Linked DNA regions of Homo sapiens: region 1 is linked to region 2. Evidence: fine-mapped expression QTL. A gene starts in region 2. The other region holds a variant in brackets. All regions are shown on one strand. Distances are between the middles of the regions. Region 1 overlaps STX6 (syntaxin 6). Region 2 holds the start of STX6 (syntaxin 6).

Evidence for each region. PIP is the estimated chance that this variant, and not a neighbour inherited with it, causes the effect.
Region 1: its variant is fine-mapped to the expression of STX6 in whole blood (TOPMed, PIP above 0.99).

Annotation. Positions count from the first base shown.
Region 1 is chr1:180,964,253-180,979,655 of GRCh38, forward strand. It overlaps STX6 (syntaxin 6), which reads right to left. Exons shown (of 8, transcript NM_005819.6): 8 at 8,473-12,394. The coding sequence ends at 12,318. It also overlaps the pseudogene MR1P1. Among named protein-coding and RNA genes, the nearest start is that of KIAA1614-AS1, 17 kb to the left of the region's middle. The variant A/G (reference allele first, on the strand shown) is at 6,580.
Region 2 is chr1:181,016,342-181,031,744 of GRCh38, forward strand. STX6 (syntaxin 6) reads right to left here and starts at 6,529. Exons shown (of 8, transcript NM_005819.6): 1 at 6,298-6,529. The coding sequence starts at 6,332. RefSeq lists an enhancer at 6,269-7,052 and silencers at 6,461-6,590, 6,711-6,810.

The DNA of each region.
Region 1 (15,403 bases), 52 kb before region 2:
CTTTGCTTATGAGTTGAGATTACCTATAAAATTCCATCCTGCATTTGCAAACCTGAACGAGAAAGGCTCCAAGTCGTTGGTCTGGAGCTCTAAAGTCCTGTCCAGGCCCCGGTTCCTGGGTTCTGTAAGAGGAAATGGCAGCTGGGGCCTGGAGGCCTGGGTACAGCTGAGCAGGGAGCACTCGTGTGGGGCTAAATGAATGCAGTTGAAGGACCTGGATCATCTGGGACCCTACATGTCTTCCTTCTTTGCCTCCTTTCCAGGGACGCACTCTCTGAGATATTTTCGCCTGGGCGTTTCGGATCCCATCCATGGGGTCCCTGAATTTATTTCAGTTGGGTATGTGGACTCGCACCCTATCACCACATATGACAGTGTCACTCAGCAGAAGGAGCCACGGGCCCCATGGATGGCAGAGAACCTCGTGCCTGATCACTGGGAGAGGTACACTCAGCTGCTGAAGGGCTGGCAGCAGATGTTCAGGGTGGAACTGAAGCGCCAGCAGAGACACTACAATCACTCAGGTGTGCATGCAGCAGAGACAGACGCTTCCCTCACCCCACAGAGGCCCCTGGGCTGACCTCCAATGAGCAATGCTGACTTGCACCTGCTGTGGCTTTTGGCAAAACCTGGGAAATCTGGTTGGTGTAGTTCAGAGTGTCCCATCTGCCTGTGCATCTTCTGGACTGTCCCTCTCTCCCCCAGGAGCCCTTTATCCTCTGCCGCATCCCCCTTCCCCATATCCCCATCTCCTTTCCCATTCTAAATTTGCCCATTCTGTGTCTCACTTCTTGGTAGCCAGGCCTAGTGACCTGCTTGCTTATGCATAATGACATTAACTTTCCCAGGGATATTTCTAGCTCCTGCATCTCTCTCCCTCCTCCACTGCACTCAAATAGCCACAGTTTATCAATCAATCATTCCCATTACAGGATAACTCCCCAAGAAGGGAATTATCACACTCCTTTGGCATGCAGTAGGTACTTCACAAATACCTGTTGTCAGAGTGGTATAATGGACACTGGCGACTCAGGAAGGGGAAAGGTGGAAGGTGGGTGAGGTGAAAAAAACCACCTACTGAGTACAACATACACGATTTGGGTGACAGATACACCAAAAGCCCAGAGTTCACCACTACACGATTCATCCATGCAATCAAAAACTACTTGTATCCCTAAAGCTATATGAACCAAAAAAAATTTAAAAAACAACCCTGCTGTCAGGTGGGCTTCCAAAGAGGGACCTCCTGGGGACTTAGCGATGCCACAGCAGGCCTGTGGGGTGACGTAGACCAAAGGATGCTTCCAGCCATGCCCCTGCTCCCAGCACTTGAGAGCCCACCTCTGTCTCTGTGTGGACCCCTCTGGGCTTGCGTGTGTGTTCCAGGGTCTCACACTTACCAGAGAATGATTGGCTGTGAGCTGCTGGAGGATGGAAGCACTACAGGATTTCTGCAGTATGCATATGATGGGCAGAATTTCCTGATCTTCAATAAAGACACCCTCTCCTGACTGGCTGTAGATAATGTGGCTCACACCATCAAGAGGGCACGGGAGGCCAATCAGCATGAGTTGCAATATCAAAAGAACTGGCTGGAAGAAGAATGTATTGCCTAGCTAAAGAGATTCCTGGAATATGGGAAAGACACCCAACAAAGAACAGGTAAAGAGAGGAGGCCTTGTTCCTGCATTGCCTGAACAATTGTTTCATAAATCCTCTAATCTAGGTTACATTCACCCTATCCTGAAGCCATCTCTTTAGTTGGCCTGTAGTGATCTCATGGCTAGAGCCCCCTGCGAACTTTTGAGCCCTCTGGTTACTTCTGAGCGGCATCTTGACAAGATTTGGCGGTTCCCCTTGTCTTGACAGAGTGGAGTACCTCCAAGGGCACCTTGTTTTTGGGGATCCATTGAGGCAAATTCTTCCATTCCATCAATAAGCTGGGAAATTCTTTGGGAGGTGGAGCAATTCTTACAAATTGTTTAGTTAACAAAGGGCTCACACACCACCAGTAGGAGTGAAAATCTGGATTTAACAGGACAAACAGAGGGTCTCTGCTTTACTAAAGGACTAATGACAAGATTCCTTCCAGCAAAGAGCTCTTCTTATACCTTAAAGATATGATTCAATTGGTCAACTTTCAGTTAATACAGAACTTTTCATGTATGATCTTATTATTCAAAATGAATTACCCCTGTATCATGCTACGGGAAATACCCAGACACACGTGCCTTTCCTCACAGGAGTAGGAGGGATTTTCTCAGCTGTGGCCAACAGCAGGGGAGGTGTCTGGCCACAGTTATGAATATGGAGCATCTGCTAAAAGTACAGGCTTTGGAGGCAGATGCCTGGAGTCTGAGCTTCGACTCTCCTGTTCACTAGCTGAAAAACTATCTCTTAATGGTTGCAGGTAACAGAAACCTATGTAAACCGGCTCAAGCACAAAGTGGGATGCTATTTTAAAGGTGGGAATCAGGGCAGTGTGGGGACCCGAGAGATCAAAACCAAGATGTGAATGATTTTATCCAAGAGGTAGGGATGTGGCTGCCAGCACAAAGCTCATATCCTCCATCGCTTCACCACTCCGTAAGAATGGGTGTCTCTCTCCCAGCTCTGGTTACTAAAAGGAAAAGGAAGTCACGGGAGGACTCTGACGTGCGTTGGATCATGTGGTACCTCTGGGCCTAATCACCGTGACCATCAGGATAAGCCTCTAAGACAAGCCATAGCTAACAGTCCTGGCAAGAACTAAATGGTACAACTCAATATGGTTTAAATGAATTCAACAGACAGCATCTGTAAGGGAATAATCAGAACTGAGGAAACCAGTACGGGATGGTGAAGTGTCCAGAGACGTGTGACAGAGGGAAGCTATTACCTCCACCAGAGCTGAAGGGTAAAAGAGAATATTGTTATCATAGTCCGGCAAGAGCTGCTACCCTGGCAGAGGATGCTCCTTGTGAGAGCTGTGACCGTGGCCCCTGGCGGGACTGCAGTGAGGTGGGTTGGGGAATGAAGCCCCAGCCTCTCTCTCCTCCAGCTCTCTGGTCTTTTTTGAGGATGCTCATCGCAGTGGCCAAGCCCAACCAGAGGCCGGGGGCTCTGGAAGTGCAATCTGATGCGTATAGCCTCCTGGGGCATGGAAGGGCAGAGAAGAGATTAGCTGGGGGCTGATGGGGAGAGCCTAACCAGCACACACACTTTTTTAGGCTAGGGCTGGGCAGGAGGATTAAGACTGGTACCTCTCAACACAAGCACATGTTGGAATGGGGTAGGGTAACTTTCCAAAATATGTTGTGTGTTTGGCAGAAGGGGTTCCTGTTGTTAGAAAAAGTGAGGCTAACAGATGGTAGGCCAAAAAAGCAATAAACTAGAGTAAAATCAACAGGTATGATAATGCCTACCCCACAGAAATGGATAGGAAAAACGTGCATAAAAGCACTGTGTAAACTGTAGGGCTCTGTTCCCTTTTCATGAGGCCATCAGTCATACTGGATTAGGGGCCCACCTTACTACTGCAGGATGACCTCACCTTCCCAAATTAAATCAACAACCCTATTTCCAAAGAATGCCACATTCTGAGGTACTGGGGGTTACAACTTCAACATGAATTTTTTGGGGGAAACAATTCAACTCCTAACACACCCCTACCCAACCTCTGTAGGTTCCCTCAATCCACCAAAACTCCTTTGGCTCCAGTGGATTATCTAGCAGTTAGGAAACCAAGATCATTAAACAAATTCACTGCAACCACAGCGAGACTGACTACCTTAGCTTACCTCTGTGAGAGGAGTTAAGCCAAATGAATCTGTAGAATTTTGGCGGGTTTGGGGGTATTTGGGGGCAGGGGACAGATGTTCTTCCTTGAAATCACAATACTTAGTTCTCTTCCATTTATAAGACTCACCCCTCCATCCCAACCCCTGCACCACAGGACAAGGAAGTGTTCTTGGCCTTCAACTTTCATCCATGATGGTGAAAGCACTTGCTCCTGATCTATTTGCCCACCAGCTTCTCCTCTGTAGCCTGAGGCTTCTGATGCCTGCCTGGCTGGTTCTCAGTAAGAAGGTCAAGTTCAACCAGAGAGGAGATGCTGATGCCTTTCAGTAGTTAAATATGAATTCAGACCCTGGGGCCTGGACATAAGATTTGGGGTCCCATCAGCTGGGCACGGTGGCTCACACCCATAATCCTAGCACTTTGGGAGGCTGAGGTGGGTGGATCACTTGAGGTCAGGAGTTTGAGAACAGCCTGGCCAACATGGTAAAACCTCGTCTCTACTAAAAATACAAAAATTAGCCGGGCTTGGTGGCATGCACCTGTAGTCCCAGCTACTAGGGAGAAGGCTGAAGCACAAGTATCACTTGAGCCCGGGAGGCAGAGGTTGCAGTGAGCCGAGATCGCACCATTGCACTCCAGCCTGGGCGACAGAGTGAGACTCAACCTCAAAAACAAAAAAACAAACAAAAAAAAATTGGGGGTCCCTTGGACCTAAGATTTCTGAAAACACTCAGACTATGGGGACCCCTGCTGAAGGAGAAGCCCCCAACTGTGGCTTCAGGGGAATGCACCAAGGCTCTCACTGAGGCCGCCTTCTCCAACAAGCTCCCCTCCTGCTTCCCCATGGCTGGCATGGCTGAGGAAAAAGGACACTGAGCACAGCCTGTGCATGAGCGGCTTGCCATGCCGCAGGATAAAACCCATAATGCCACTCAGCGTGCCTTGGTTGTAAATCTAGTTTGATTACAACACTAATCTCTGGCCATTTGTTCTGTTTCTGATTTGTGAACCAACCGAAGACATGAGCAGGGCCTCAGCTAACCCACAAATAGCACATGTGTGCAAACTGGAAAAATGAACCCTTCTTCTGGGAGGACGCCAGCCCAGGCCAGGTCACCCGGCTTGGCCAGCAGAACACAGAGTGGATTTTGGTCCCGTTTGTTCCCCAGTGGGGTATCTATCCTTGTGCAGGGCACAAGCTTACATGGTGGCTCTGGTCATTTCATTAGAAAATAGACAGAAATGGGCTGCACACCAGAATGAATGATTTGGAAGGGAGGGGTGATGGTATAAAAGAATAGGCCAATTCATTCAAAATGGTAGAAGCAGAATGCCAAATTCCATCCACTCTTACCAATGCCCTGAGCTGGGAAGCACAGGAAGCTGCTGCTTTTCCTCTCCCCTTTTTCCCCACTCCGTGTTGGCTGCACCAGCAGAGGCTTCTGTATTTGCCCTGGGCGGGAGTTGGGTATGAAGGTCTGGGCCAGAAGGTTCTGAGTTGCTGCGCTGCTGGGTGGCAGCTGGAAGGCCAGGCTGGCTGAAGCCCTGGCGAGGTGACACTGGGTCTGAGGCAGGTGCAGTGGCAGCAGCCAGACCTCTGAGGACACAAATGGGCTAGAGAGTGGGAAGAATGGAGTGGGGGTAAGGGGGGACAGCCTATGAGAGGAGGCTGCGGGATGAAGTGGGAAGCCACAAAAAATGGAAAAGGAAGTGAAACCAAGGGAGAAATAAGAGTGCCACCCCCGAGGCCGTCCTGGCCTTTCTTCCTTTCTGAGGCATCAGCGCAGATTCTAAGGTTACCTGAACTGACTGAGAGCTCTATTGTTTTCTGAGCAACACGACAGTGGTATAGAGAATTCCTGGAACACACTGGGAAGACACACGCTCTACAAGGTGACAATTCTGGGGAAATCTGAAGGGCTGGAATAATAAAAAGTCAAACATTTGGCATCCCATCAGCTGCTGAAACAACCCTCTCACGTACTTTAAAATACCCAAGACACACACTCTGCATATTACTCACGAAACAGCTACGAATGCACAGTCTGTGCATTACCAGTTCATGTCACACTGTGCCTCAGGAAGCCGCTGAGTGGCCTGGTCATGCATCTTATCAATCTTCTGGGAGAGGTTCTGCCTGACTGAATTGGCTTCCATAGTATTTGCACTTCACAGCTGAAATCCTTAAGAAAGGAGGTCAGCTTCTGGCTCCGTAACAAGTTGTTCTTGGCCACCCAACGGTTGCCCTTCCTAACTGGAGCCATGGTGCTTGGGTGGAGACAACAGGTGTAAAATGGGTCAAGTGAAACTGTGCTTGCTGCTCCGGCTGACAGCGAGCAGCTCTATGGCTACCCTAACATGCGACGGCCACCACCAAATTCAAACTCAGCTGCCACAGGCTGCCAAATGAGAAGTCGCCATCTTAGTCCCTCAGTGTCCAATACAAGGACGCTCCACAGTCAGGCAGCCAGTCCACAGGTAGGACTACAGTGCCCAGAAGTCATGGCGATTTTGTTTTCAGATTGACAGATAACACTATGTTTTCATCGTGCACGTTTTGAAGTATACAGAAGTGCCCCCTGCCCCACCGCCTTTTTGCAGGGATACATTCCAAGACCCACAGTGGATGCTTGAAACCACAGATTGTACTGACTAGATAAACTGTTTCTTCCCTTATATACATAGGAACTCCCTTGCTGAAATCTTTGTATAGGCACAGTGCTTTCCAGTGCAACCCATTTCTGAAACCTCAGAAAGTGAAACCGCAGATAAGGTGGGACTCCTGTGCAAGTGGGTGAC[A/G]TGACAGTGGACGAAGAAAATAAACATAAAAGTTGTCCTTTATCTAAGAAGGGAACGCAGTTCAGACAAGGAAGAGGAAGAGCAAAAGGTCAAGACACAATAACAGTTACCCAAGCTGTAGGGCAACAAGGGTTATCTACGGTGAAACCAACTGCAAGCCTGACACTCAAGTTTGACACGAGGATCTTCAAGACCCCCTTGGCCTGTGCACTCCAGCAGCCAGGGAGCAGATTTATGGTGTTAGTGAAGGACAGCCCTCTCTGACAGCAAAAAGATCTTCCTCACTTCCAGTGGGTGGTGGAACGAGCATACTACCAAGGGCCAGTGATTTGTGGAGGATTGATTTTGCACAACTGCATCTAGAGGCCTTGGGAAACCTCCAGCCCTCTAGCCATCTTGCCCAAAATGTGCGGACCCACAAACGAGAAGCAGCCAGACTTTTCTGATGGGCCTCCAATGGGCACTTCTGGGGTCCTGAAAAGACTTCTTCCCATCAGGTGTATTGTTTCTTTGATGTGAAGTTCCAGAGCAGGGAGTAGTGTTCCTCTGGGGAATTTGGAAAAAGGGAGACACACTGTTCTCACATCAGTTTTAAAGCTTTGCTGTTCACGCCTCATAACTGAGGTGACCCCAGAAATTGCTTGCTGAGTCCATGCAATGGAAACTTCTCATCATTTTCCCAGCTGTATTCTCCTCCCTGCTCTTTGACCGACTGCTCTCTGCCTCCAGTAACTCAGCATCCTCTTTGGCCTGCCCCACCTACAACTGTTGTGGCATGGAAGGACCCCAGGTTCTCAGAAAAACTGCCACCTCACCCTCCTCAGAGAACCCTTAGGATCTGGCATTTCCACTCTGTGTACGCTGGAGGCCGGGAGGCTCAGGCTCAGAAAGGTGAGAGCTCTGGGCCATGAGAGTGCACATCTAGGAAGCGGGGGTAACTGTACGAATTAAGGCCGGATGGCAGAGCAGGACAGGTCACAGGGGTGCCCACAGCAGCAGAACAGGCCATCTCACCACCCACACCCATCCCCCTCCTTCGGTGGGGGTTACTAAATGGGGCTTTGGGATCTCTCACCTTCTTTGCACACTAGTTCTTTTGAAGCTGGCCTGTGGAATGGTGTTTTATGTTTATCCTTGTTTACTGTAGACCAAAAATTGGTTTGGAGGCAGCTTCCAAGTCTTGTCCCTCTCTCTCACTGGTTAGTGGGAATTTGGATAAGGGAACTGTAGGGCTTAGGTCAGTCTAGGGTCTTTTTTTTTTTTTGAGACGGAGTCTGGCTCTGTCGCCCAGGCTGGAGTGCAGTGGCGCGATCTTGGCTCACTGCAAGCTCTGCCTCCCAGGTTCACGCCATTCTCCTGCCTCAGCCTCCCGAGTAGCTGGGACTACAGGCACCCGCCACCACGCCCAGCTAATTTTTTGTATTTTTAGTAGAGATGGGGTTCACCGTGTTAGCCAGGATGGTCTCGATCTCCTGACCTCGTGATCTGCCCGCCTCGGCCTCCCAAAGTGCTGGGATTACAGGTGTGAGACACCGCGCCTGGCCAGTCTAGGGTCTTATGTGACCAGCTGCAGAGTAAGTACCTCTAAGCTATCCATGGTCCCTGCCAGGTCTATAGACTCTACAGAGAGCACCGCTCTCATGGGTTCATGTGTACCTGTCTGGTGGCCTTGTTCCGTGTGTTTAGCCTCTGCCCAAGGCATGGATGAGTTACATGCAGTTAGTGGTGAGATCCTCATGCTGAAGCCAGCCTCTGTGCCCCAAGAAGTCATGGGCTATGATCCAAGAATCTGGGAAGTAGAGGTCTTACCCTCAGGCTTGGGTGGCTCTTTGTTGCATTTTGTGTTATTCTGCTATATGATCATTCTAGTAATTCAGTCCTTTTCAAGTTGAATTCTTTTCAGGTTGTTTTATTTTCCTTTTCCGGAGACTTTTGTACATACTGTTGTCCTGAGTAACAGTATCTCTAAGCTGAGTTACTCTGATCGGAGCTACTGAAAGGTACCTGCTTTCAGCAAATTCTGGTTTGGTTTTATTTTTTAATCAAAAAAAAAAAAAGGAGAGAAAGAAAAGAAAGACCACCCCCTATTAGAAGCAAAGGCCCTGGGAGGAGTAAGGCCTGTCACTGGGGCAGGGGCACTGTCCTCAGGGGCGGACTTTGCTCAGGGATGGCGCACAGTGACTGCGGGGGCTTAAGTCCGGTAACCCTTTGGTTTTATTTCTTTTTATTCTTGATGGGCAAAAAGCCTCCTTTAAAAAACATTATTCTTAAGAAACCTGGGAGAGAAAAAAATGCCAGTGAGAGGAAGACAAAGAAAAATTAGAGGCAGTACATTCCATATTTCAGAACTTTAGCTTTCCAGACAGTCCAATTTTGTTTTGTTTACAAATTCATCTTGCAGTACAAGGTGAAGCCAAATGGTACAAAGTCCACAGAATTGAAAAGCCATTCATATTTATCATTCAATTTTTTGATCTTCAAATGTTATGAATTCTCCAAAAAGGTAACAGGGAACAGATATCCCTTTGGTCTCACTTTATAGACAGGGAAATTACCAAAAGAAAAATCTTGGCTCTACCATCTCTACTTACAGAAGGTAAAACACTTAACAGAGACAGATTTCTGTTGGAGTTAGACTAGATTTCTTTTCACAGCCCTTAATCTCACGAGGTGAGAAGGAGTGGAAGTTGCCAAGTTGTTGGCTACCAGACCCATCAGTCTGTTTAACTCTGGCTAAAAGCAGAGAATAATGGGCAAGTTACCAAGTTTCCCCCTTCAGCTCTGGCGTGCATTCTGAAATTGTGGAAGATCCTCATGTAACACACACGCTGCAACCTGCATTTGCCACACAGTCCAGGGCATATAGAGCATTGTGATTCTTCACAGTCCGCAGAGACAAGACCAAAAATGAGGACTAAAAACTAAAGGTAGCTGAGTTTTTCAGATGGATTTTCACTCTGGCAAACTCAGTAGTTCACTCCCTCCCACCCCTCAAATCATTTAAGTAAAATGTTCTTCCAATAAACATAAATTGAGCTCTTCCTCTGTTATCCATCACATTCTGCCAGTTCTTTAAAACTGGAATATGGTACTAGGTACAGAAGGCTAAAGGGGTAGGAAAGCCCCAAATACTATAAAGATGCACTTATAAGCAGTGTGGGGTTATCACCACTGTCTACTTACTCTCCCATTCTAGGACACAGGGTGAAGAGACCACCTGGGTTCCCTCTAAAGCCCTGAACATTAGGACCACTGAGGAGGAAATATTTGTCCTTAAAAATAAATGTAGGTTCCCTGGATTGTTCTCTTTGGCTGCCACATTTGGAGCCTGAGTGGAGGCCCTTCAAATTAACACTGGTTCTGTAGGGACTGCCCAGTCAGGGTGCAATGGGATCAGACACAGGATCAAATCAGCCAGGGGCAGAAGGGCATGGTGGCCCTACGGGTAGAATGCACTGTATTGTTAGTTAACTTTCTAAATTGTTCTCTATTTAGCTTCAGCCTGAGTCAGGTCTACAATGGCCACTATTTAGAAAATAATTTAAATCAGTGAGGTAAGCACGCCGATTTGAAATATATCCAAACATCATTAAGCCTCTGGGTCATAAAACTTGGTCCCTGAACTAACAGGAGTATCTTACTCATTAATGACTAGGTTTGTTCCAAACGGCCCCTGCTGACACACATGATCCTTTTGTGTGGCACAATAAATCTGGTAATAGCAGAACAATAGCATGGCTTTTAAATAGGGTAATTTTATAATTCCTTAAGATGCTGGTTTGCTTCTTATAATGTGTTGTGTGGATTACAGTACTTAGACAAGGTTCACATTTACTTTAAAAGACTTCTATATTTTAATGCAAATCTAAGGATCATCCCCTTTCTTAGTTTATAGAAGATTCAAACTTTGTAAAACATAAATAACCTAGTACTCTAAACATCTGAAGCCCTTTGTAATACTCACTGTTTTTTCCTAATTTGAAAATAACTTATTTATATATCAAACATTAGAGCGGAGTGTAAACATGGATGTCAATCACCCTTTTAGTTTCATAAATTTGCTTTTAGCTTTCATCAACAGGCATATTTTCTTAACCTACCATGATCTCAAATGAGATAAAATATCCTTCTTCAAAAATTGTTAAGAATATTTATTAAAAAGTGCAATTCAAAAGTTAGCTGGGCAAGCACATCATTGCAAATCACAAAAAAGGGTGAAAAAACCAAAACCCCCAAATAAAACCACATGAAATACAAACAAAACAAAACAAAAAGGTTTAAAAAAAAAGTGTGCTGAGGAATGCACCCAAAAAGACAAGGAAATGAGAAGTCAAAGCTAGAACTCTATCCAGATGTTGCTGTTCTTTCCAAGTGCAAAAGAAGGTGGTGAGGAGAGACCAGCAGCCTCCACCACCGAGTTCTGGCTCTGGGTCCAAATACTACTTTAATATCAGATTATTCATCAGGGAAGTTATAAAAATATCCTATATACATGTGCACATTTGAGGCATTTTAAAAAGTCATCAGAAGGTTAAAGTTTAGTGTCTCAGCAGTTTCAGCTACTTAAACTCAATTAAAGCATCTATCATTTAAATTTGGATTGGCTCAGTTATTTGACTGCAGATGATAAAATCAAGCTGTCATCTTAGGGAAAAAAAAGAACCAAGTTTACCTACACATCCTTGCCATTACCCACAGAGTAAGAGAAGTCTGGCCCAGAGCTAACCTTTTATGTCATTACGTTTCTTAATAAATGTAATAAATGTACTAACCACTCCCAACCCCAACCCCCAGTGTAGAGTGCCCTAAGAGTAAAAGAACTGTAATGAGGACAATCTGGTATCCAAATTCATTCAAGTGTGTTACTGAGCTGTTTAGCAACAACATATGTAGCAATCACCCTCAAAACGCAAGCTGCACCTCTGGGGAGGAAGCCCTGGTACAGCAACATCAAGTCGGCAAGGATCAGGAGCTGACCTGTGGCGACATCATTAACCCTTCCCTAAGCTATGCCAATGCAGAACCCTCTTGCTCTTTTTAATTGCTCCTGTCAGTTAAAGCCACAAGTTGTTAGCACCCCCAAACCCCAGGGTGTTTCATTATTTTCCATTAGTTATTCTTACCACAAAAAAAAATGACCTGGAAAAGCAATTTTATCTTAGCATTTATCCCTGAAAAATGAAACACTGCATTTTCTGTCACAAACTGTTTCTGAGCCTTCTGTCCTCAATAATCATCAGCTCTCAGGGGATAAGAAATGCTACAGCAATGGGAAACGAAACATACCCAGAAGCTCGTATTCCTGACAGGTTTCTTTAGATGGGACAGCGGTGCACTGTCTGAGCACGGGGAAGGGTCTGAGCAGAAGAAAAGAGCTGCCAAAGATGCATGGAATGAGCAACAGCAAAACACCAGTGGAGTCTGTAAGTCCCTCCTCAGCAAACGAGGTCCCGGAAGGCAAGGCAGCAGCTAGTTCTCCTCCGAACTGGACAGGCGGCATGGGGCTTCTGTTGTCCAGCTGCAGCCAGGAGTGCAGACATCTATTTCCTCTTCCCACTGGCCCTTCCAGCGCTGGGATGGAGGAGCCATGTCAATTGTGGGGTCACACGGAGAAAAGTCAGTGCAGCAGTATGTTTCCAGGATAGGAATGTGAGTAGACGGCAATGTCACACGTGCTCAGCTTCTCCTCCTCCCCTCGGTTCATATGCAGGAGGAACTCGCACCCAGAGGCCCCGCCGTCACAGCACTAAGAAGAGGATGAGCACAACCAACAGGACTGCAAAGAGGATGGCTATGGCACACCATTGGCGCCGATCTGGAAGGCAGGACATGGGGATTAGCTCTCACAGGGACTCCACATTCCCCAAGATACAGTTATATGGAATTTATGGCACCCTTTGAAGCAGAAAAGGGGCAGAACGTGCAAATGACGGGGCCATGATCTTACACCTGCCTAGGTGCCTGATGCTCTAATGCTGCTCTGTTCTTGGCCTGCACTTCGCATGCAGTCACAACTTTGCCAGTCCCCTGAAAATGTCTCGTAATAATTACATGCTTTGTGTCTCAAGTCTTTAATTAAAATCTGCGGATCTTAGCTTTCTGCTGGTAGTTAGCATATCCTCAAAAAAGGTGTTGGCAATGGTGTTACAGATCAAAGCCTGCCTGCTTTAATCTCCCATAAAAGTCAAGTCATTTAATTAAACAATAATCACATTCTTTTCTCAATGAGCACAACGGGAGGAGGGAAAGGAGATGAAAGCTACTGCTGGTCACTTCAGGAAATATACAGCTGAAAAAGCAAGCTCCAGTGAGACAGCATGATTAATTTCACACCACACCTAGTCAAGTAAGATTACTTAACTAGTAACTGTGTTAAAGTACCTTGTACAGCTCCTCTGTAAATGAAAGTGGAATTTTTTTTCTGAAACTTTCTGCCCTACCAACAATTTGGAACAGCAGGCACAGGAAACAACTTGACTAGAGTCCATCCAAATGGCTGAGAGCAGGGAGGCCCTGTGAGACAGAAGGGCCCAGACAGGCCCTGGGGGAGCCCTGCTGCAGCTCACAATCCTGTGGTCCCAACTCTACAACAGCTGCCCCGCAGGGCTGTTGTGAGAATTAAACAACACAACCCTGTCATACACACACTGTGCAATACCCAAACCTAGGGCACAGAGGATGCTGTCAACATCAGGATGCTTCCTTAATTTGGAGACATGTAGAAAAAATGAGCAGTCCTTCCACTGATGAGTTTTGGCATCTTCCACAAAGGGCCCGACTGATAACAGAATTCACTAGCGTATGAAAATGCAGTACAACCACTAGGAATAAGAGTTCCATTTAAATAGAAATATAAAGACATATTGATTCACTAAAGTTTCTTTGAAAGCCCACTGATTTTAGCACACTATAGTTATTGAGAATCACGTTGCAAAAAGATCTCAATCTATGAAAATAAACTGCTAAACTCTCCACAAGGCAAAACATGTACTTAAAATTATTTTAAATATTATGGATATCAAAGTCTTAGAACTGGACAAGAGAACTGCCACCAAATTATAAGTAAAGCAAGTACCTTCTAAGTGGTGATCACCTTGGTCTACCTCAGACATACTAGAAACTCATTTAGTTAACTCTGAGCAGGACAAAGACCCCAGGTCCATCACTCGTTGTTCTCAGGTAGGACTGTTCCAAAGGTCTAGGGAAGGCAGAGATGGCCTACTGCAGGTCACACTTTGACCTGTTTAACTATTACTTCAATGGTCAAGAAAACTTTTATAACTGGCATTCTCTCATCTGATTAAAAATGTTAAATTTTTAATTTCCAGCCAAGTATGTAAGAAGCTTAGAAGTCATCACTCTGTCGTAACAAGTAAAAAGCTGAACAAACTGAAAAAGCAAAACTCTTCTTAGATCCATCAGAGAAGTGAGGTCACATGGTAAACTGCTGCCCCTAAAACTGCAGAAACCTACAGATGCATACAGAGAATCACAGCTTATCAGAGCAGAAACCCACGAAGCAACAAACTCCATAGGAACCAGTGTTCTGGTAGGAAAACCTTAGCTTTAATTGATGAGTCGCTGAAGGCTCAGTGTGGACAAGTCTGAGATGAAAAACAAACAAACAAAAACACTCCAGGTGGACCCAGGCGAAGGGGACCCCCACACTTCTGTGGGTTTTACCTCCAGGAGCTTGACCAGGTTCTCAGCGAATATTGGGAAAAATCCCCTCATGCTTCCAGCAGGCGGAGGGGAAAAAGAATCACTACGAAATACTCCAGAGCACTCTGTTCTAAACAAAGTCTGCCCTCAAAAGAAACTAACCAGAGTCTGACTAACCTGGGGGAAGGAAAATACCCAACTCCAGTCTTCTCTAGCCATCCAGTTCCACCTAACAGTAGAAAAACTGGGAAGCACTAGTGAAGTTCACGGGCCAGGGGCACAGGCTCACCAGAGGCTAAGACCTAATCACAGGACTAGAAAATGCCACCCCCCGGCCTCACCACCCCATCTATGGTAAAGGTCTATTTACCACAGTTCCTTTTACCCAGTATATCATGTCCACTTTTCAACAAAAAGGTAAAAGGCACACTAAAGGAAAAAGCAACAGTAGGAAGAAACTGCATATGCATCAGAACCAGAGTCAGATACAGCAGGAATGTTGGAATTATCAGAAGAGGAATTTTTAAAACTATGATTAATATGCTACAGGCTTTAATGGAAAAAGTAAACAACATGCAAGAACACATGGATAATGTAGGCAGAGACATGGAAATTCTAGAATGAAAAAAATAGAGATCAAAAAGACTACACAAATGAAGAATGCCCCTAATGGGCTCATTAGTAGGCTAAACACAGCTAAGGAAAGGATCTCTGAGCTTCACAATTTGTCAACAGAAACCTGAAAAAAGAAAAAAAGACTGAAAAAAAACCTGGCACAGAATATTCCAGAAATGTGGAACAACTATAAGACTTACCATAACATCAATCAAGATAATGTAGTATTAGGAAAATAGACAAGCAGATCAATGGAACAGACAGTCCAGAAATAGGCTGACATAAATACAGTCAACTGATCTTTCACAAAGGAGCAAGTGCAATACAACAGAGCAAAGAGAGTCTTTTCAACAAATGGTGCTGAAACAACTGGACATCCATGCCAAAAAAATGAAGTTGGAGGCAGACTTTACACCTTAACAAAAATTAACTCAAAATGTATCCACAGACCTAAATGTAAAATGCAAAATTATCAAACTCCTGGAAGAAAACACAGGAGAAAACCTAGATGACCTTGGGTATGGCAATGACTTTTTAGATGCAACAC
Region 2 (15,403 bases):
GGTCTTTCTTTTTTTTTCAATCTCCACAGCATCTCAACTCTACTGCAAAATCTTACACAATATATCTTTCACTTATCTGCATAGTGTTCTCCAAACTAAGGAGCTAAATAATATTAAACACTCAAATTTATAATAAAGGCTTGCAAATTTGTTCTTACAACGAAACACTGGATTCTGCTTTTTAGAAAGTATTAAATTTGATTTACATTCAATTTTACTAGGCCAAAATTAACAAACAAGGGTTATTTTTTTCACAGTGACTATACCAATACAGTTTTTCAACAGTGAATAGAATGCGTGATGCCCTCGAGGAGCTCATAATCTAGTGTTAATAAAGCTAGATATGCAGACAGAGAAGGTTAAAGAACACAACATAACATATACCATCTTACTCATCAGCTTACTTATGTCATTATTTCAACATCAATCCACAGCCAAAAACCTGGAAATAAAACTGTTATCATGCTGGGTGCGGTGGCTCATGCCTGTAATCCAAGCACTTTGGGAGGCCGAGGCGGGCAGATCACCTGAGGTCAGGAGTTCAAGACCAGCCTGGTAAACACAGTGAAACCCTGTCTCTACTAAAAATACAAAAACTATCCGGGCGTGATGGCGGGCTACTCGGGAGGCAGAGGCAGGGAGAAGTGCTTGAACCCGGGAGGCGGAGGTTGCAGTGAGCCAAGACGCGCCACTGCACTCCAGCCTGGGTGACAGAATGAGACTCTGTCTCAAAAACAAACAAACAAACAAAAAAACCATCCTCGGCTGGGCGCAGTGGCTCATGCCTGTAATCCCAGCACTTTGGGAGGCCGAGGTGGGAGGATCACGAGGTCAGGAGATCGAGACCATCCTGGCTAACACAGTGAAACCCCGTATCTACTGAAAATACAAAAAAAAAAAAATTAGCTGGGCGTGGTGGCGGGCACCTGTAGTCCCAGCTACTCAGGAGGCTGAGGCAGGAGAATGGCGTGAACCCGGGAGGCGGAGCTTGCAGTGAGCCGAGATCGCGCCACTGCACTCCAGCCTGGGCAACAGAGTGAGACTCCGTCTCAAAAAAACAAACAAACAAACAAACAAAAAACTATCCTCATCAGACACACAAAACCTCCACAGCAATAAAATAGCAAAGAGCCATGGTATTTGTACCTTTTATCCACAGGAGTGGCTCACTTATACTCTGTCTCCACATGCTCAGTTACATGGTTTTCTTCAGGGTTTGTCTGATTAGAAGGTGCAAATTCTAAAAGGAGGCTAATTCTAAAAACTTGCCAACAAGGGAGGAAAAAAACTACAGAACTAAACAATCAAAATGGGTTCACTCAACAAACACTGAGTACATCCTTACTGAATACAAAGATGAAGACTACAAGATTTAAATATGATATTTTCACCCGGAGATTAGTAAAGATTTTTTTAATGAAAATCCCAGTACTGGAATCAAGGGAATTGGGTCCCTCAAACACTTTGAGGGGCAAGGGGGAATATTCTGGAGGACAACGTGGTAGTATGCATCAAACGCTTTGCTGTGCCTGCCCTCTGAATTAGCAATTATGCTCCAGGAATACAGGCTATGAAAATCAGAAGCAGCAATACAGACCTATGACAAGTAGGCTTATCACCACATTAATTGTAGTGTGATCATAAATATAATGTATCTTCCAGGATGAACATTTATATGACAAAATACAATGCAGTCATTAAAAGCTGCCACCCAGAAGTCTGAAGGATATAAAGAAATACAGATGAAAACGTCATAAAACAGGCCAGGCGCGGTGGCTCATGCCTATAATCCCAACACTTTGGGAAGCCAAGGTGTGTGGATCACCTGAGGTCAAAGTTCAAGACCAGCCTGGCTAACAGGGTGAAATGCCATCTCTACTAAAAATACAAAATTAGCCAGGCATAGTGGCGCACATTGGTAGTCCCAGCTACTTGGGAGGGTGTGGCAGGAGAATCGCTTGAACCCAAGAGGTAGAGGTTGCAGTGAGCTGAGATCACGCCATCGCCATTGCACTCCAGCCTGGGCGACAGAGTAAGACTCTGTCCCAAAAAAAAAAAAAAAAAAAAAAAAAAGAAAAGAAAAAGTGATAAAACCATATATAACGTATAATCCCAATTTTTAAAATGACCATATTATATATATAATATATATTTGTAATAAATATATAAATCCTGGCCCTTCTACGTACAAGCTTATAAAGTTGAAGTTTTTTACTAAGTTTCATTTTCCTTTTTGTGAAATGATGACAATAATAATACCTACTTCATAAGGATAAAAGAGCAATCCCTGTTGTGGGATTCTGTTCCGAACAGGACATTGACAATGTCAAAACCTCCCAAAAGGAGCTTCAAACTTCCAAGCACTAACCACTGCATGTATAAGTTACAACAGCTTTCTAACTGGTCTCCTTTTTCATCTTTCCTCACACTGATGCATCCAACACTACCACCAAATCAATATTCCTAAAATCCTAATTTCATGTCATTTCCTTGCTTTAAAAATCTGTAATGGCCTCAAGATGAGATTCTCCTTAGGCCAACATAACTTGACCCTATTTTACCTGCACTGGGAAGTATTGACAGTAGTGTGAAATCAGGTTGTTCTAATTTGAAGCCTGAGTACACCACTTATTAGCTGTGTGACCCTAGGCAAGTAAGTTAACCCCTCTAACACTTCCTCAGCTTCTCATCTCTAAAATGTGGCTAGTATTCATCATATGGGTGTTTTTACAGAGTGAAAATTCATATAAAGTGCTTACTTAGCACTTTACATGTATGCCTGGCACTGGAGATGCATCCTTTAAATGTGAGCTGTTACTACTTCCCTAAACTGTCTACTCCACCTGGGCTGCTCTTCCAGATCATTTCTAACACACATTGCCCAACTTAGGCCTTTGGCTGGTGGTGTTCTCACCCATGAGGCACCATTCCATCACAATCACCACCATCAACAAAGAGTATGTGTTCAACATTTACACTATATATTCAAGGTGTAGGCTGGAAATACAGAGGAAAAAAAAAAAAAAAACAGTCCCAAACCTCAGAGCTCATAGTCTAATAATGAAAGAGAGACAGAGGAAGAGGTCCAATAATTAGGGGTGACAAAGGAAGCACTTCCTGGAGGCAAGGGAGATGCTTACACTGACTCCAGAAAGCTGCGTGGGTGAATCAGGCAGTGTGGGTGCATGTAGAGTAAGAGCATCCAGTACAGCAATCACAGTCACTGTATTGAGTCTGGCACTGCTGGAGTACTAAGGCTAAGGGAGAGCAGAGGCTAGATCAGTGAGGTCAGGAAGTGTTGGCACTTTATTCTGCAGGCCAGCAGCAGCCACTGAATAATATTAAGTAGGGTACACCTGTCTAGGACTCTAGAAAAGCTTACACTGTGCTGTCCAACACGGAAGCCACATACAACTACTGACTGGAAATGTGGCTAGTGTGACAGAAATTAAATTTTAATTAATGTAAACTTGGTAACTGATAGCAATTCAGTTATCAAAAACCTTTTATGTATGTTTGGAACAATTAAAGAGTATGTAGGCCGGGCGCGGTGGCTCACGCCTGTAATCACAGCACTTTGGGAGGCCGAGACAGGTGGATCACAAGGTCAGGAGATCGAGACCATCCTGGCTAACATGGTGAAACCCCGTCTCTACTAAAAAATACAAAAAATTAGCCGGGCGTGGTGGCGGGTGCCCTGCCCATAGTCCTAAAAATACAAAAATTAGCCAGGTGAGGTGGTACACACCTATAGTCCCAGCTACTCAGGAGGCTGAGGTGCAAGAATCGCTTGAACCTGGGAGGCAGAGGTTGCAGTGAGCCGTGATTGCACCACTGCACTCCAGTCTGGGCAACAGAACAAGACTCTGTCTCAAAAAAAAAAAATGTATTTAATGAACTTTAAATACAGATCAATTATTTCTGATGAAAATTTAATGTCCAAATTTAAATGTGCAGTAAGTGTAAAATATGTATCAGATTTAGAAGACTTAGTACAAAAGTAAAATATCTCATCAATAATCTTTAATCACATGTTGAATATTTTGAATGTATTAGAGATTACATTAGAATTAATTTCACCTGTTCCTTTATATTTTACTGCGGCTACTAGAAAATGTAAAATGACATACATGGCTGGCATTATACTTCTATTGGACAGCAATGATCCAATAGATCCCAGGACAGCTGAAAGAGGAAATGAGACCAGAAGCAGGAAGAACAATTAAAAAGACTCTGATAAGCATCCAGGTAAGAGAGACAGGCCTGATTATCTAAATTCTGCCCATCTTCAAAACCTAATTCAAGATACACTACTGCCTCCAAAAGCTCTCCTAATCCTAACAATTCCCAAGGAGTTACCTTTCTCTGAACTCCTGAGGCACTTATCTGTAGCATTCACTTCAACACTCATTCATTTGCCACCTGTCATTTCTATTTAATTTTGGGGTAATTTGTTTCTCAGATTAGACCAGAAGCTCCTAGGCTAAGGGCCATAATTTAGGCACCTTTAATTTTTGCATGCTGTGTAATGCATTTTTGATACTTTTAATAAACACAGGTACATGACTCCCCAAAAATCTGGATACACCTTCATGGGTGACTTTACCTTTCCACAGCAGAAGGAACTGAGAATCTCTTTTCCTTCAAGAACCTTAAAGATAGGAGCTAAAATGATGTAAAAATCAATCAAAACTCCCTCCAAGCCAATGTTCCGATAAAGTAGTGATATTTAATCAGTGAGCAAGCATTAGTAGACTGTATAGGATACCATCAAGAAAAAAAAATGCCAAGACAGAAGAATTTAGGCTTTTGACAAATTCCATAAAAAGTCAAACAAAAAATTTCTGATCATCTCTGATCTCTACCGCCAGAGATAACCTTTGCCAACCTAAGCATTAAGAACTTTCAATCAAGGAAAAAACATCTATTTTAAAAATTAACCCCTAAATCAATCCTTCTAATAAATATCACATTTTCTAGGTAGGGATACACATATTACCAGTAAATTTACAACTCAGCATTTTCCCATCTAAATTAGAGTAAGGTGAAGAAAAAAAACTTTCCAGGGAAATATTAAGAAGTAGTATAAATGTATTTTACTGCATAATCGATAAAGTATTTCACCTAAAATACCATTTAAATTTTCTACAACACTTGACTATACAACGGCCAGCTTGCACCACTACAGAAATAGGAAGCTAGCAGCAACTAGTAAAAAGCAAGGGACATTCTGTGGTGATCAGTACTGACCTGGGAACTTTGCAGTTTTCAGATTTTTCATGTTTGACATTTAAAACAGAAAACTGACAAGTTTCTAATAAGAAACTAAAAGTTACATCAGAATTGATCTTCTTGCATGTGTTTAATGGCTACGAAGTGGATATTACAAAGTGCAGTTGAAGACTCTATCTCCAAAGAAACAATCGAGCAATCAAAGATGAGCTAGGATAGCTTGTAAGGGAACAGAAGGCAGTCCTTTCTATTCTGAAAGGCAGAAGAAATAGGAGAAACCTGTCAAACAACCTGGATGAAATCAAGGAGTTAACAAGCAACACTCATTTCCTTTAGCACTGTGAGAAAATTCCGGTTGCTAATAGAAAGCTGAGGAAAGTTTGGTTTGGCTTGTTTCATTTTGTTTTCCTTCCAAATCATCACTGAGTATGAACGACTGCTTTCCTCTCCTCACATTACTCAGTAAAAACTCCCCCATTGAATTGTCTTCCGGTGCCCTGCTCCCCAGCCTCCCAGAACGGCCCCCGCCCCCGCCTCCCTCCCAGCAAACGTGCTCAGACGCCTCTGGGCTTGTTGTGGTCTCGCCAGTCTGCGGACAAGCGCTCCAAACTCAATGGACAATGGAGCTCACCCCCGTCAACGCGAACTACAAAGCTCAGGAGGGCCATTTCCCTTTTCCTGCCCAGATGCTGTTTTCGCTCCTTCGAAGCAAGATCCCATGCTCGACTAGACGGCCAGTGTGCGCCAGGACCCGCGTGTCTCCTTCCCCACCTGCAGAGCTGCTGAGCCCCTCGGCCCCCAAATAAATTGTACCGCAGCACACAGGCCAAAAAGGGCCCCCCACCACCAGGGGCTTGGCTGGGGACAGTGGCTTCACGGTCCAGGTAGGGATGGAGGGAACGTCTCTTGACGCTTGGTCATGGCCCTCAAGACTAAGCCGTCTCCACTGTTCCCCCTCCCCAGCTCCAACTTGCCTCCCCTCCCCCCACTGCGAGAAGACCTAGGAGGTGCGGGCAGGCAGCACCGCCACCTCTTCCTCCGGTGGAGCGCTCGGCCGACACTCACCCTTTCACCACAAAGAAGGGGTCCTCCATGGACATGGCGTCCCGGCCCCGGCCGCCTTCACCTCCTCCGCGCACAGGGCGCCCGTGCCTCCCGGTCTCCCTCCGCCCACCCCGCCTGTTCCCGCAGCTGCCCGCGCCTTAGTCTGGGTGAAGCCGAGCAGCGGGCACGCGCACAGGCCAGGTGCACAGGACGGCCGCTGGTCCAGCACTCGCTCAGCACCACTGGCCGAATCCCGGACTCGGGCGCCGGCCCCCTCGGCAGCCTCCAGTCCCGGCTCCTCCCGAAGCGTCGGAGGGCCTGACCCCACCCCCGGGACCCTCGGCCGCGGCCAATCACGAACGCCGCCTGAAACACGACTTCCGCACCCCGCTCACGTGACCAGGGCATATATCTCTCTCTCTCTCTCTCTCTCCTCTCTCTCCTCTCTCTCCTCTCTCTCCTCTCTCTCCTCTCTCTCCTCTCTCTCCTCTCTCTCTCTCTCTCTCTCTCTCTCTCTCTCTCTCTCTCCCCCCCCCCCCAGTGGGCGGGGCTTACGCCTGCGTCCCTCGGCCCTGGAGGCGGAGCCCTCGGGGCGGTGGAGGTGGGCGGGCTTCTACAGCCCTCTCCTCAAGCTTGAGGGTGAGGAGTGGCTTGTTCCCTCAGAACTAGGCAGTCGGCTTTTCAGGATAAGCTGTAGTTGTACCTGATTTGCAAAATCCTCTTACCTTTCCTCTACTTTTAATACTTAATTTTGACAGTATGTAATTTATAAATCTATCTGGTCCTCGACTTAAAATGAAGCATAGTATCTGATTATAATGTTACACAGATCCTTTAAGTAGGTCTTGCTTTGTGTTGGACAGTGTGCTAAAGGTTGTGTATGCATCATCTCAGTATCCTTTGGGGGAAAGTATTATTCCCCCCTCCCCCTTTTTGGGGGGCAGGGTCTCTCTCTGTCACCCTGGCTGGAGTGTAGTGGCACAATCACAGCTCACTGCACCCTTGACCTCCTGGGCTCAAGCGATCCTCCGGCCTCAGCCTCCCGAGTAGCTGGGACTACAGGTGAGCGCCACCACGCCCGGCTAATTTTTAAATTTTTTATAGAGATGGGGCTCTCAGTATATTTCCTAGGCTGGCCTTGAACACCTGAGCTCACATGATCCTCCTGCCTCTGCCTCCCAAAGTGGTGGGATTATGGGCGTGAGCCACCACACCATCCATTTTTCTCATTTTGTAGATAAGAAAATAAGTTCAGAGAGGCTTGAAGACTTCCTGTAGTCACACAGCCTGGACAGGGCAGAACTGCAGATTCTGTGCACTTTCCACCAGATGGGGTGTACTTTCTGTTGCTGTACATTCTGCAAATAACCATGTAAAGTAATTTTTCATACAGCATATGGTGCTTCCCAGGAGAGCACACCTTCGAGGAATAAAGAAGGGGCCAGGTATGACAACTTCCTCTCACTGTGGTTCAAGAGCTATTCGAGAAAACATTTTGCCCAGAACCATTAACCAACTCATATGCTAGATATGCTATGAAATTTGTGGATGGGGATTGTGGACTTTGATTGCTGAAAATCATTGAGCACTTACTGTGTGTGTGTGTCAGGCAGGATGTTAAGTGTTATCTCAGTTGCTCTTACAATGTGATAATTACTGCTATCATGCCCATTTTATAAATGAGAAATCTGAGACTCGGAGGTTAAGTGACTTGCCCAAGGTCACCAGTCTGGAGCTGGCACAGTCCTTGGAGCAACACAAACCCCGTTTAAACCTTGGCTCTATCATTCAGTTCCTCATCTATAAAACATAAATAATAATAGCTAGTTCATGGGTTGTTGTGATGGTTAAATAAAAATGTGTGTAAACCTCAAGATCCCAAAGGACTAAGTTACTGAAGTCAGGAAAACCAGTAAGGACGCTGCTAAAGTCATGTGGCCTGAAGGGATGAGGTCCAGACCAGGATGACAGCGATTGAGAACAGAGAAGGAGTGAATCTGACAGATGTTTCAAAAGGAAAACAAGACTAAACACCTAGACATGATGAGGGGCTGAATGGGTTTCAGGAGGGGAGAGAAGAGAGGGGTGAAAGCCAAAATCCCTGGAGGAGCGAATGATGGAAGGCAGATGTGGGGAAAGGAAGCAGTGTCCAATACTAGTGATTGCTAATGTTTATTGGGAGAGAACTGTTTAATTTACTTAGCTGGGGAGGTGAAAACGTGTCATCGTTCATTCATTCAACAAGCACATGTAAATTGAGGGGTAGGTGAGCATGGTGTTGAAGACCATCCTTGGAGTCTGATTGCTTGAGTTCTGCTGCTTCCTGACTGTTGCATCTCAGGCAAGCCGCTTCATCTCTCACTATCCTCAACTGTGAAATAGACACCGTAATAACAGCTTCCTTATAGAGTGTCATGAGGTGATGTGTGAAAAGTGCTTAAAACAGTGCCTGACACATGTTGTGCTCCTACTGTGTGCTAAGCACTGAGACACAGGCATGAACAAGGCTTGGTTCTTGCCTTCAAGGAACTGTCAGACTGGTGGGAGAGACAGACTGGTGGGAGAGACACACAGTGAGAGAAGGGCACAGGTTGCCATAGAAACACAGCGACAAGATACCAGTATATTTGTGTGTTTTCGGGGCTGGGGCAGGGGGTTCCTAAGCAGTGACTAGAAGCAGCCAGGAGAAGGGGGCCATGTTGCTGGAGTAGAAGGAAAAGGATGGGGGCAGCAGGAGCTAAGCCTGGAGGTGGACAGGGTCAGATTATCAGGGCCCTTGTTTGTAATGTTCAGAATAGTGGACGCTTCCTATGGACAGTTCCCCATGGGGACTGAGGGAATTGACAGGGTCAGATTGGCATTTGAGACAGATGCTTCAGTGGCTAGGAGGTTATGGTCCAGAGGAGGGATGAGGGTATCCTGAGCTGGGCTTGTGACAACTAAGGTGGAGAAGAGTGATGCATTTGAGACATACTTTAGAGGCAAAGTTAGTATACTTGGTGACTGATTGGTTCAGGGTATGGGGGAATTGATGAAAGAAGAGGGAGGAAGGCTTCTGGGGTTGTAAATGGGTAGTGTTGGTTCCAACCATCAAGAAAGAGAACACAAGAGGAGGATTTGATTTAGGGTGAATGTAAATTAGCTGTTAGCATGTCATTTATCCCCACCAAACAGTAAACTCCTGGAGGGACAGGATACTATGTTAATGTTATTATCACCTAAGTGCCTGACACGGCCTCTTATTATCTGTTCCATGAATTTCTTAATTGGACCACATATGACAGGCCAGAGTTTTATAAGTAGTAATAGAAGATAGAGGACAGAGGCTTGGGTTCCCATAATTAGGGGATTAGAAAAAGCACCAACAATGGAGATAGTGGAGTGTCAAGATATAAAATGTGTGTATGTGTGTGTGTGTGTGTAGGTGTTCCTTTCTTTAATGTGTCACCCTCCTTTACCCTCTCTCAAACTAGACCTTGGCCTCCACTGCCCACAAGGAAAGGGAAGCTATGGCTAAAATGCAAGGAGAAACAAAGGAGGTTCTTTCTTTCTTTCTTTTTTTTTTTTTTCATTTAATAGGACCCACGTCCTGGCATAAACAATAGGTTGGGAAGAATACTCAGCAAAAACCCATCTCTTCCCACACCCCCACCCCTACCCCACCCCCAACCCAAAAGAATAATTTAAATTTCTCAGGGAATAAAAAATCAAAACAGTGGTTGTCTTGGGGGACAGAGTTTGACTGGGAAGGGAAACTTTCTTGGGTACTAGAAATGCTCTGTATCTTGACGGAGTGTGTGTTACATGAGAGTATCATTTGTCAGAATTCCTCAAACCGAAACTCTTAATTGGACTTAACTTCTGTTCATTTTTCTGGGGGAGGTTGACATGCCAACTCTGAGCTTTCTGTAGAGTTCTGAGTGGGCAGCCAGGAGAACCTCTGGTTCCTGAGTGAGTCTCCAAAGTTAGGAGAGTGAATGAGGAAGGGAGCACACTGGGTCCTGCAATGCATCTTCTGCAGAAATAAGGAGATGGCAACACAGAGAATAAGGCACAGGCAGCCAAATGAGCTGAGGATCAGAAAGGAGCCAACCATATCACTGGGGATGCCAGGATAGACCTGAGAGGGATTGCAGTGGGTAGCCACCCCCTGCCCCTGGAAGCTGCGGGAATGCCATGACACCCCTACAAGGGGATCTCCCCTACTCTGAAATAATGACATTCAGCCTGCTCCTTCACTAGCCTGTTATAAGGAACAACTGGATCATATATGGGAATAATTTTTTATTTTTTAAATTTTTTATTTTTTAAATTTATGAGGCCGGACATGGTGGCTCACACCTGTAATCCCAGCACTTTGGGAGGCCAAGGCGGGCAGATCACAAGGTCAAGAGATCGAGACCATCCTGGCCAACATGGTGAAACCCCATCTCTACTAAAAATACAAAAATTAGCTGGGCTTGGTGGTGCGTGCCTGTAGTCCCAGCTACTTGGGAGGCCGAGGCAGGAGAATCACTTGAACCCAGGAGGCAGGGGTTGCAGTGAGCCAAGATCACGCCACTGCCCTCCAGCCTGGCGACAGAGCGAGACTCCATCTCAAAAAAAAAAAAAAATTTAATTGTGGTAAAATACACATAACATAAAATTTACCATCTTAACCATATTTAAGTGTACAATTCAGTAGTGTTAAATATATTTGCCTTGTTGTGCAACCAATGTCCAGAACTCTTTTCATCTTGCAGAACTGAAACTCTATACCCATTAAACAACTCCCCATTCTCCCCCAACAATCTCTGGCAACCACCATTCTACTGTGTGTCTCTATGAATTTTACTACTCTGGGTACCTCACATAAGTGGAATCATACAGGATCTGTCTTTTTATGATTTGCTTCTTTCAGTTAGCATGATATCTTCAAGGTTCATTCATTCATTCTACATATTGCAGAATTTCCTTCCTTTGTAAGCCTAATATTCCATTGTATATATACCACATTGTGCTTGTCCATTCATCCATCAGTGGACGACACTTGGCTTTCTTTCATCTTTTGGCTATAATGAATAATGCTGCTATGAACGCTGGTGTACAAATATCTCTTTGAGACCCTGCTTTCCATTATTTTGGATATATACCCAGAAGTGGAACTGCTGGATATGGTAATTCTATTTTAAATTTTTTTGAAGAACAGTCATATTGTTTTCCATTTTACATTCCTGCTAAAAGACACACGCATTCCAATTTCTTCATATCTTCATCAACACTTGTTATTTTCTGGGTTTTCTTTTCCCTTATAGCAGTTGTACTAATAGGTGTGAGGTGGTATCTCATTATGGTTTTGATTCACATTTCTTTAATAATTAGTGATGTTAAGCACCTATTCGTGTGCTTATTGGCCATTTGTATATCTTTTTTGGGGGGTGGGGAGAAATGTCTATTCAAGTCCTTTGCCCATTTTTGATTGAGTTGTTTTGTTTTTGTTGAGTTCACCCTAAATCCTTCTTGAAACAAGGTAAAGAAAGGGAGAAAAGTGTTAACATAGATATAGGATATCATACTCTTCATCATTATCCAACCTTTTAGAAACCCTGATATACATGTACATATTCCAGAACATTCCACTTATGTTAAGTTCCATTGATCTGGCTATGACTGTCTATGTTTCCTACCTCCAACCACAGAAAATATCCATACACATATCCAAAACACACTGGCCATGATTTATTTCCTCTTCCTGTTTGTTACCAACACCTCCACCACTGTCACCCTCTACACACTGATTTAAAATAAACAAGGAGGAATTCCAGTCAATTTACATATTCAGCACTAAGGAATGATGGAGAATTTGTGGAACATCCATTTGGTGGTCATTAGAAATGTTGTTTAAAAGTATGTAATGACATAGGAATGGCTTGAGTAAAAACAGCAAGACACAAAATTATACATATGATACAATTTCAGCTCTGTTCTTTCTTATACATTAAAATGTTTTGGTACATAGAAAATTTTTACACGTAGGAAAAAAGAAATCTATTTAAAGTTTGTCAACTACTACAGTGAAATATTTACTTGGATAGTCAGAAATCCAAAAAGTTTTTTAAAAAGAAGAGAAAAAGTAATAAAAGAGAAGTGAAAAGCCAAGTGACCACATACGAAAAAGTACATCAAAAGTTAGCAGTTTTCAGCCTGAGCAACATGGCAAAACCCCATCTCTACAAAAAAAAAATACAAAAATTAGCCAAGTGTAGTGGCTTATGCCTATGGTCCCAGCTACTCGTGAGGGTGAGGTGGGAGGATCACTTGAGCCAGGAGGCAGAAGTTGTAGTGAGCCATATTCACGCCACTGCACTCCAGCCTAGGCGACAGTGAGACCCTGTCTCAAAAAAATAAATAAATAAATAAATAAATAACAGTTTTAAATCCTGTTTAGAATAAGGCAAGTTAGGAGGGTCTGAATGAATGGAAATTGGTGAGTACTAAAAAGCTGAAATACGTTATTGGAATTCAGTGAATTTCTTGACAAGACGGTGGATTTGAACCACTATAGGAAGGGGAGGTATGTTCTTTACCATCCTTTATGAATGTGACTGTGTATAAGGAAAGAAAAATCAATCTGTGTTGGTAAACTGGCTCATTGCAATAATAGTACTAGTGATTGCTAATATTTACATACTATGTACCAGGCATTGTGCTAAGTGACCGATGTGGTTGGGCTGTGTACCCAACCAAATCTCATCTTGAATTCTCATGTGTTGTGGTGGGAGGGACCTGGTGGGAGGTAATTGAATAATGGAGGTAGGTCTTTCCCGTGCTGTTCTCATGATAGCGAATAAGTCTCATGAAATCTGGCAGTATTATAAGGTGGAGTTTCCCTACACAAGCTCCTGTCTGCCTGCTGCCATCCACATAAGATGTGGCTTACTCTTCCTTGCCTTCAGCCATGATTGTGAGGCCTCCCCAGCTATGTGGAACTGTAAGTCCAATAAACCTCTTTCTTTTGTAAATTGCCCAGTCTTGGGTATGTATTTGTCAGCAGTGTGAAAACAAATACAGTGACACACATGCATTATCTTCAGAAGCTCCAGAATCCCCATATGGGGCAGGTTTTAGAATGTAATTTGGTTGGACAGCAGGGCTAGGGGACTTGATGTGGCATGGGAGACCCCTGTCTTTTCTTTTTTTTTTTTTGAGATGGAGTCTCACTCTGTCGCCCATGCTAGAGTGCAGTGGTGCGATCTCTGCTCACTGCAAGCTCTGCCTCCCAGGTTCACACCATTCTCCTGCCTCAGCCTCCCGAGTAGCTGGGACTACAGGCGACCACCACCACGCCCGGCTAATTTTTTGTATTTTTAGTAGAGACGGGGTTTCACCATGTTATCCAGGCTGGTCTCGATCTCCTGACCTCATGATCTGCCCACCTTGGCCTCCCAAAGTGCTGGGATTACAGGCGTGAGCCACTGCGCCTGGCCTCTTTTCTTAAATTATAGGTTTATTTGGGATTACTTAAGACAGCTGATGGCCATTATGCGTGTGTAGTAAAAGTACTCTAATGCCCCAACAAGTGACAAGTCACTTCTTGGTTCCACCACTGCTGATTTCATTGAATCCTCACAATAATCCTGTAAGGCAGAATTGGTTATTACCTCCATTTTCTATGAGAAATCCCAGACTTAGAGAAGTTAATAATTTGGTCAAAGGTCACATAGGTAGGAAATGTCAGAGCCTCATTTGAAAATAAGTTTGACTCCTGAACCCATGTTCTTTGCTACAGTATTCTACTCCCATTTGTACAAGGACTAGCCTTGGCCAAAAATTGGCAAATGGATTTTACCTACCCACAGAAAAGGGCTCAAATCAAACTCGACACAGACACAGACACAGACACACACACACACACACACACACACACACACACTTCTACTGAATTAAAAAAGAAATAGCCAAGGGGAAACTACTGATTAAATATAATAAAATATATTATGTTGAAAACAACATTATTTAACAAACAAGACCCTTTTGCTAACTTGATAATTCATCATTTGGTTTTTAAGGATGAATTGCACTAACTGCAAATGAGTCAGATTCCTCAGAGGGGCCTTAAAATACATATAATAAATCAGGTATTAAAAAGCCAAACACATAAAGGGATTTATAATGAACAGGATAAGCACAACCCACTCTGAAAAGTGCGGCCTGAGATTTAAGTTTAGACTATTGCTCAGAGGTGAGGCTTGTTTTTCCACAAAGAGAATGCGAGGGATTCTCCCTACCTCAGTGCCTCCCAGCTTAGTGGGGCAGTCTTACCTGTCCTTGAAGATCTTGGCATAATTGAATCTATTAAAAATTTTAAGGACTATTAAAGCTATGCTATTAAAAACTGCATATTAATATTGGAAAATATAAATTTGAAAAGAATTTACAAAATACTATTAGGACGTAAAACCCTTTTTTGGTAAAATGAACAAATAAAGGTATGCTTATATGCAGACATATGTAGTCAGCAAAACCACTGAAAAGAAATACACTAAAATATGTTAACAGCAAATTTTTTCCTTTCTTCCTCCCTCCTTCTCTCTCTCCTTCCTTCCTTCCTTCCCTTCTTTCTTTCTGTTGCCATGGTTGTAGTACAGTGGCGTCTCAGCTCACTGCAGCCTTGACCTCCCTGGCTCAAGCAATCCTCCCACCTCAGCCACCTAAGTAGCTGAGACTACAGGCGCATGCACCACACCTGGCTAATTTTTTGTATTTTTAGTACAGATAGGGGTTTCACCATGTTGCCCAGGCTGGTCTTGAACTCCTGGGCTCAAGCAATTTGCCCACGTCAGCCTCCCAAAGTTGGGATTACAGGTGTGAGCCACCATGCCCGGCCAACAGCAATTTTTTCTGATGGGTGATTTTTATCTTATCACTCTCTGGGTTTTTTATATGTATTTGCCCTGTACTCTGGATTAAATTTACTAATTTGCAATTAGAATACAATGACTTAAAAAATGAAAGACATCGGTCAGGTGTGGTGGCTCACGCCTGTAATCCCAGCACTTTGGGAGGCCAAGGTGGGTGGATCCTGAGGTCAGGAGTTCAAGACCAGCCTGGCCAACATGGGAAAACCCCATCTCTACTAAAAAGACAA